2 separate regions of the Homo sapiens genome follow, and region 1 is linked to region 2. The links come from fine-mapping of genetic effects on gene expression. Tissue or cell type: sun-exposed skin. Region 2 holds a variant in brackets; the other region holds the start of a gene. All regions are shown on one strand. Distances are between the middles of the regions.

Region 1 (4,516 bases), 120 kb before region 2:
ATGACCTCGCCCTGTCAAAATATCTCTGCCCAGGCCGGGCGCGGTGGCTCACGCCTGTAATCCCAGCACTTAGGGAGGCCGAGGCAGGCGGATCACGAGGTCAGGAGATTGAGACCACCCTGGCTAACACGGTGAAACCGCATCTCTACTAAAAATACAAAAAAAATTAGCCAGGCATAGTGGCGGGTGCCTGTAGTCCCAGCTCCTCGGGAGGCTGAGGCAGGAGAATGGTGTGAACCCGGGAGGTGGAACTTGCAGTGAGCCGAGATCACGCCACTGCACTCCAGCCTGGGCAACAGAGCGAGACTCCATCTCAAAAAAAAAACAAACAAAAAACAAAACATCTCTGCCTGAAACAGCAGGGTCACTGGGATATGGGTAACCCCAACACTCCCCAGGCTGCCCCCTGCCCTCACACCATTGCTCCCCAAGCAGACACATACACAGGGCTCCATTCTGCCCTCAGGCGTGTCTCTTCCCCCCACCCCCCGGAGCTCCACATGGGCCCTCACCAGGCGGATGTCATCCTGCGGCCTCAGCAGCTGTACCATGAGGTGCAGGTGCTGCCTCTGCTCCTCCTGCTTCTGGGGACTCTGGGATCCTTGCCCGAAGTCTGTCTGGTCCCCGTGGAGCTCCTCCTCACTCGGGGCCTTCTCTGTTGGCTCAGAACTGGCCTCTGCTGCATCATCATTGTCCCCTCCATCCTGCAGTCCCAGGACAGCCCCACGGAGCACCGCAAAGCTCTGCCTGGCAGGGCAGTGGGCAACTGTCATGGCTCCTCATTCCCCTTAGGGTAGGGGCTCTCAAAGTCTAGCATGCATCACATTCACCTGCAGCCCTTGTCTACACGGATTCATGGGCCCCCACGCGGTCGATAGGTCTAGAGTGGAGGCCTGAGCATCTGCATTTCTAACCCCTCGGCCCCTTGGCAATATTGCTGAGAACCAGTCTTGGGGGCTTCCAAGCTCTCAGCCCCTCTACTCTAGCTCATCTGTGGGGAGAGGGGGCTGCTCCTTTTCCCCTCCCACCTGTTTAACTCAAGTGCTGCTGGGAACATGGTCGGGGACCCAGGAGTCCTCAGGCCCATCATGCCCTCCTGCCGTTCGGCCCGTGGCCACCACCTGAGCCAAAGCCCAGGGCAGTGGATGAGGAAGCCCCAGCTGACCAGGGGGAGGGTGAAGGCAAAGGCCGCCCTACCGCGAGCCCACCAGCCGGCCCCACCGGGAACGCTGCCCCACAAATTTGGCAGTGGGCTTCGCTGCGCGTCCTCCGGGGAGCTTTCTGTCCCTGCAGCTGGAGCCCAGGACGGCCGTGGCCAGGCCCGGGGCAGACGGAAGTGTCTGCGTGGGGGAGGTGGCGCTCACCTTCGCTGGAGTCGACTCCTTCGCTGGACCGCCTGGTCCTGCGGAGAGAGCAGCCCCAGGGCAGGGTGAGGGCGGGGAGGGCTGTCCCCTCCCCTCTCTCAGGAATTCTAGAGTTGGGGGAGGCCAGAAAAGGCGCCAGATGCCAATCGTCTTCCCACCCCAGTCCACGCCCCACCGGGAGGCCCCGTGGAGCCCCGGCCCAAGGCCAGGTCGGCTGGGTGGGCGCCGAGTGTGGCGGGGGGCGCGCTCAGATCGGGGCCTCCGCAGCCCGGGCGGCGCGCAGGGCTCTGGATTGTGCCCCGGCGCCAGTACCAGAGACCCTCGAGGCCCCCAGCGCCCTCCAGCCCGAGCCCCGGGGCCCCCTCCTCATGTCCCCGTTCGAGAGGAGCCCGCTGGCGGGCAGGACGCGCTCCCAAGCCGGGGCAGCAACTGCGTGGGCGGCACCACGGCCGGACCACACTCACCCAGGGCCCCACGGGCGTGGAGGCGCCGCTGCCCGGGGGCGAACGGCTCACTGTGACCAGGGCCATGGAGCCAGGCCGCGAGCACCTGGGCTGGCACCGGGCACGGCCCCTTCCCTCAACCCCGCGGACAGTCCTGGACCCGCAGGACCAGGAAGGACGGACGGCGCCACCCGGGCCTGGCACCTCCTCGGGGGCGGCCCTTAAAGGGCCAGACACTCGCCCAGCCGGGCCCGCGGAGCTTCTCAGGGCGGCCGGGCCCCGCCCCTCCGGTCTCCGCTGTTCGGCCCGCCCAGCCCCTGGGCACAGGTCAGGGGCGAGGCCGGGGGCGGGCGCAGGTGCGGAGCCCGGAGACCCGGAGGGCAAGAGCTGAAGGCCGGGAGTTTGGTCCCCCTCCCAGGAAGCGCCCGGCCCGGGCCGGCCCAGCGGGAGCACCTGAGCTGTTCTGGGCCTCCAGCGTCCTGTGCCCTGCAGAGGCGGGTCCTAGGGAGGCAGAGCTGAGGTGGGGAGGTGGGGGACAGGTCTAGAGAGGATCAGGCACGGCGCGCCCTCGGCCAAGGGCCCCCACCCCAAACATTTCTCCCTGCTGGTCGGCCTTCTCGTTCCCACTCCGCAGGAACCACTGGAAGACAGGCTTCCGGGGAAAACGGCCTGGGGTTTACAAATAACCCAGGAAGCCCATGAGGGGCTCTCAGGTCCACCTCGGAGGCGAGCAGGGCAGGGCTTCCAGCTACGCAGGCGGAAGTGACTTGCGCAAACCCACCCGCAGAGAACAAGCCGCAGTCAGGGCCAGGGCCTGGGCTTGGCTGCAGGGGTCGGCGTCGGGGCTCTTCCCAGCTGGAGGTGAATGGTGCCTGGGGACCCAGGCTTTTCCTCCCCAGCAGGCACGTGGGCCGGTTTCCAGAAGACTAGGCTGGGTGGCAGGACGAACCGGGTCCCCAGCAGGTGGGACAGGGCACAGGGGATCTGACTTTCACAGGACGCCTGCTTGGTAAGGACACGTGACTCTCGCCAGCTCCTTTCAGCCCTGAGGGGCGGAGGGTGGGGGGTGGTCTCCTCATTTTACAACTGAAGAAACTGAGGCTCAGATAGGCTAAGGGGACCATGACCAGGATTCAAGCCCAGGTCTGAGGCCGCCATCCACAGTGCCTCTCCACAGCGCCCCACCTTCAGGGTCCCCACCGCTCCAGCCCAGTGAGCAGAGCAGCCCTGCTGCGACAGTCTCTTTATTTCCATCTCAGTCTCCCCTGCCTGCTCATTCCTGGGGCTCCAGGCCCCAAGCTCAGCAGCAGAGAGTTTATAAATAAATAAATTACAAAAGCGGGCAGGGAGTGGCCTGGCCAGCCCTCCCGGGGCTATGGCTCAGTGCTCAGTGAGTGACAGCTGCAGGATCCGCTGTAAGTCCTCCTCCTCCTGCTGCCCGCGCCGCTCCCGCTCCTCCTGCTCCCGTGAAGACAACTCCAGGGCCAGGCGCAGCTGCTCTTCAAAGCTGGGTGGACCGGGGGCTGGGGGTGTCCTGGGAGGGGATCCTGGGCCCCTGGGCTCTGTGGACAGCTGCAGGCTTTCCTGGAGGGCCCTTCCAGGCAGGGCAGGGGAGGGAAGAACAGGCCAGTGAGCGCCAAGGCTGGGGCAGAAGCCGAGGGGCTGGGGACCGGCTTTGGAGGACAAAGGCAAAGACAGGGTGGCAAGCAGAGGAGACAAGGCAGGGCCCTGCTTCCCCACCCCTCACACCACCTTTGGTGGCAGATAGCGCTGCTGACAGAGGGTGGCCTTGCAGAGGGCCTGGGGTCCTAGCACCTTCCTGCTATCCCCCTCCCCGCCAAGCCAGGGCTGGGGGGACAGGGACCCAGCCAGCCCCATGAGGGGCTCACCGCTCCAGCTGAAGCTGTTCCTCATAAACCGTGGCCTGGGGAGGAGGGCGGGCACCGGGCCGGGTGTTGGTCAGGGCTTCCCAGACGGTCACCTGCAGCCACCAGAGCCCACAGCTGTCACTTCTGCCGTGTGGCTGCAGAGGCCAGAGCCCACCCCCTGGGCAAGTCCCACCTGCTCCGCCTCAGTGCCCGCTTCAAGCAGGCTCTGCTGGATGGCGAACTGCAGGAGGTCATCGTCCTCGTCCCGGAGGGGCTCGTTGCGCTCCATGCCCAGCACGCTGTACCCGTTGGGCACTTCAAACACGGTGGGGTCCACCTCGCACGGGAAAGGGTTCCCTAGGCAGGTGGCAGAGGGGCCACGCTCAACCCGCGGGGCTTGGTGACCAGAAAGCTGTGCAGGCTCCCTCTTCCTCCCGTTGGGGTACCTGATGCGGCAACAGCAGAGCTGGGGGCCGGCACCCACACGGAGCTCAGGGGCTCATCACAGCCACACAGGTTGCTGAAGGTGATGCGGGCATTGAGCACGTGGAAAAGGGGAATCTCTGTGAGAAGACAGCCACGCCTGAGCCCTGGCGGAGAGCCACCTGTGCCTCCGGCCCCTGCAGCTCTCCAGGGACTGCGCTGAGGGAGGGTGCCATGCCTGAGGTCCTCCCGCTGCCTGTGCCCAGCCTCTCACCAATTTTGACGGGGAAGCCAGGTGGAAGGCGCAGAGTGATGAAGTCGCGCAGCTTGGCAAAGTGAGCGTTGCTGATGGCCATTAGGTCGATGATGGGGGTCACCTGGTCACCCAGGGAGAGCGGGTGCTCTTCACTCAGCCACA
Region 2 (4,000 bases):
TCCCCAGACACAGTAATATTCACAATCAGGTTTGAAATTATTTTAAAAATATAGGTGATTATATATTTACACATATGCACAGGAAAAAAGAATACATAATAAAATGTTAATGATCTACCTAAGGGTGGTAGATTTCAGGAGATTTAAATTTGTTGTTTTTTTTTTTTTGGTTCATCTATATTTTCTCATTTACCTCTAATATGAAACACTTGTGTATCAAAAGAAAAGCATATACTTTTAAAACAAAGTGGGAAATTATTTTCAATTACTATTGTTTTGGGTTATCAATACCACCACTGTTTATTGCCCTGGGTGTAACGAGGCCATTTTGCAACTACATCCAGCCAGGCTGAAAACACTTACTTTATTCCGAGTCCATCAGAATTCTTGAAAATCAGAGGATCTCTCAAGCCACCCCGCTGAATATACTCTACATTAAAATCTGTCACCATAGGAAAATATTAGAAAGATAAGTGGTATAATTAAAAACGATAAAAGGACCATAAAAAGGATCCTAAGTAATACAGTATAAATGGTGTTTGTTATTCTGTGTATATAGTTATGCTGTTAGTCAATAAAATATATGCTTAGTAAGAAGCATCTCTTAGAAAATATGGAGAGCACATTGAGAAGCAACGCTTGAGGGGTTTTCCAAGTCTATATTCCAAGTCTAAATTTCCACAGGAAATTTAGAGCTTAAATAATATGGGGATAGGACTACTAATAGTGAGTCATCTTATAAATGCTAAACAGAAATTATCATCACCCTGTCTCTGAAGAGTTAAAAAAAAAAAAAAAAGGGCCAGGTGTGGTGGCTCATACCTGTAATCCCAGCACTTTGGGAGGCCAAGGTGGGCAGATCACCTCAGGTCAGGAGTTCGAGACCAGCCTGGCCAACATGGCGAAACCCCGTCTCTACTAAAAGTATAAAAAAAAAAAAAATTAGCCGGGTGTGGTGGCACGTGCCTGTAATCCCAGCTACTCAGGAGGCTGAGGTAGGAGAATTGCTTCAACCTAGGAGACGGAGGTTGCAGTGAGCCGAGATCGCACCACTGCACTCCACCCTGGGTGACACAGCAAGACTCCGTCTCCAAAAAAAAAAGTAAACAAAACATTAATTTTGACCACTACAATACATATATGACATCCTTGTCAGTTTGCCAAGGATCAAAGATGCACGGTGCGCATGGAATCCCACCCTCAGTTTTGGTGGGGTAGATATATACATAAAAGGATTTCTATTGTACTATTTTTAATTAAATTTAAACCAAGGGATAGAAGAAGGAGGAAGAGGCCGTTAGGCAAAAAAATCCAACAATACTCCTGCCCTAATAAAAAGATTACTTCTAATATAGGAGAGAATGACTCACAGGGTGGGAGGACTGGGGGATAAGTGCATGCAAATGGCATTGTATAACAAGAGAAAATAGATAGATAACATCAACAGGCAATATTTTAGCTGGATAAAGGCTAAACCCCCAATGCTCAGAGTCTATGGCTTCCCACATCAAAGGACTGTAAGCTGGAACCAAAACAATACTGACCTTTTCCTTCCATAAAAGTAACAAAATTGGCATTATATTTGTTGGTGTGCAGTTTCTCTTCCAAGTCAAAAGTTCTTTTTCCTTCAATTTCATCATCTGAAATGCCATCATCTTCATAGCGTCGTCGCATGGTACCACGCTAGGAAAGAAAGGAACATACTGATGAAATCATGCACTTTTTCATGCCTACCTACAAGTGGTCATAGATTTCCCTACATGTGCAAAGTGCTACTTTCAAACTCAGTTGCTATTTTCCTTGCCTTATGGATCTTTTCTTTCTCTCAAGATAGCTGATATTCTCAGAATCCACAGAATATAATGAAGTTTCAATGAGCCACTGGGTCCTCTATGAATTTTACCCTTGCTAATTCTTTGAGCCTAGAGATATAAATTCACAATAAAAACAGGACCAAAGAGGGTCTACTAAATATTTCATTTGTCTATCACTGTTTATCAGAGTGGGCACAAACTGTCTTCATAGAAATTTCAAGCCAGGATACAAAATATAATTTTTTCACAGGGAGAGCTGTATTTAAAATTAGCTTGGTAAAGCAATCTCAAAAACACATTTGAATGAATGGATCAAAAACCCTTGTCTCAGATAAAGGAAGAAAGTTAATCTAAATAACAGCATTCCAGGCCGGGTGCGGTGGCTCACGCCTGTAATCCCAGTACTTTGGGAAGCAGAGGCAGGCGGATCACCTGAGGTCGGGAGTTCGAGATTAGAGACCAGCCTGACCAACACGGAGAAACCATGTCTCTACTAAAAATACAAAATAAGCTGGGCGTAGTGGCAC[A/G]TGCCTGTAATCCCAGCTACTCAGGAGGCTGACGCAGGAGAATCGCTTGAACCTGGGAGGTGGAGGTTGCAGTGAGCCAAGATCGTGCCATTGCATTCCAGCCTGGGCAACAAGAGCAAAACTTCGTCTCAAAAAAACAAAACAAAACAAAACAAAAAAAACCCAGCATTCCAAATAGCACACCATCAATATTTAGTTTTAAAGATAACATGTCTTTCCAAAGAAGATATACAAATGTACAATAAGCACATGAAAAATGCTCAATTCTCATTAGTCATTAGAAAAATGCAAACCAAAAACCACAATGAAATACCACTTTATACCCACCAGAACGGCTATCATCAAAGAGATAAACAATAACAAGTGCTGATGTGAATGCAGACCAACTGGAAGCCTCATACATTGCTGGTGGGAATGTAAAATGGTGCAGACACTGGTAAACAGTTTGAAAGTTTCTCAAAAAGTTAAACAAAGTTATCGTACGACTTAACAATTCTGCTCCTAGGTATATAACCCAAAGAACTGAAAACATACGTTCTTCTTTTCAAAACAAAAGCTTATACACAAATGTTTACACTAGTGTTATTCACAACAGCCAAAAGATAGAAACCACCCAAATGTCAATCAATTGATGAATGCATTAACAAAATGTGGTATACCTATACAATGAGATATCATTTAACCACAAAAAGGAATGAAATAACGCTATGTGCCATGACATAGATAAACTCTGAAAACATTATGCCAAATAAAAAAAAAGCCAGTCATAAAAGACCACATATTGTATGACTTCATTTAAATAAAATGTCTAGAATAGGCAAATCCATAGAGACAGAAACTAGATTCATAGTTGCCAGGGGCTAGAGAAAATGAAGAATGGGAGAAGTGACTGTTAATAGTATGGGTTTTTTCAAGAGCAATGAAAATGTTCTGGAATTAGATAGTGGTATTTGTATGACCCTGTGAATATACTAAAAACCACTGGATTGTACACTTTATTTTATTTTTTATTTTCTGAGATGGGGTTGTGCTCTGTCGCGCAGGCTGGAATGCAGTGGCTCCACTAAGGCTCACTGCAACCTCAACCTCCTAGGCTCAGGTGATCCTCCCACCTACAGCCTCCCATAGCTGACACCACCAGTGCACACCACCACACCCAGCTGATTTTTTTATTTTTAGTAGAGACAGGGGTTTCCCATGTTGGCCAGGCTGGTCTCGAACTCCTGTGCTCAAGCGATCTGCACGCCTCAGCCTTCCAAACTGCTGGGATTACAGGCTTCAGTCACTATACCCAGCTGACTTGTACACTTTAAATGAGGAGACTGTATGGTATGAGAATTCTATCTAATAAGCAGTCACTTTCAAAATGTTGCTTATACTGCAAGTTTACCTTTTAATACAGTCATGCACAGTATAATGACATTTCAGTCAATATATATGAACTGCACATATATGACAGTGTTCCCATGAGATTACAGTAGAACTAAAAAATGCTTATCTCTTAGTGACACTGTTGCCATCAGGACATCATAGCACAACACATTACTCTCGTTTGTGGCAATGCTTGTGTAAATCTAACTGTGCTGCCAGTCATGTAAAAGTGTAGCACATACTGTTAGGAATAGTACATAATAAATGACTGTGTACCGGTTTATGTAT

Direction of the effects. Positions count from the first base shown, and alleles are read on the strand shown. Sizes are in standard deviations (SD) of each study's normalised expression.
In carriers of allele G in region 2, the expression in sun-exposed skin of the gene that starts at base 1,990 in region 1 tends to be lower than with A alone (large effect, 0.84 SD a copy in GTEx).

The links. PIP is the estimated chance that this variant, and not a neighbour inherited with it, causes the effect. A credible set is the group of variants that fine-mapping cannot tell apart.
Region 1: it holds the start of SSH3, and the variant in region 2 is the best candidate, but not a certain one, in a credible set for the expression of SSH3 in sun-exposed skin (GTEx, PIP 0.53).

What each region holds. Positions count from the first base shown.
Region 1 is chr11:67,301,004-67,305,519 of GRCh38, reverse strand. SSH3 (slingshot protein phosphatase 3) reads right to left here and starts at 1,990. Exons shown (of 14, transcript NM_017857.4): 1 at 1,829-1,990; 2 at 1,365-1,402; 3 at 513-747. The coding sequence starts at 1,894. It overlaps ANKRD13D (ankyrin repeat domain 13D), which reads right to left. Exons shown (of 15, transcript NM_207354.3): 11 at 4,373-4,516; 12 at 4,122-4,238; 13 at 3,869-4,032; 14 at 3,697-3,788; 15 at 3,036-3,401. The coding sequence ends at 3,188. RefSeq lists enhancers at 1,803-2,322, 2,323-2,840.
Region 2 is chr11:67,177,762-67,181,761 of GRCh38, reverse strand. KDM2A (lysine demethylase 2A) reads right to left here. Exons shown (of 21, transcript NM_012308.3): 3 at 1,545-1,683; 4 at 364-442. Among named protein-coding and RNA genes, the nearest start is that of KDM2A, 60 kb to the right of the region's middle. The variant A/G (reference allele first, on the strand shown) is at 2,342.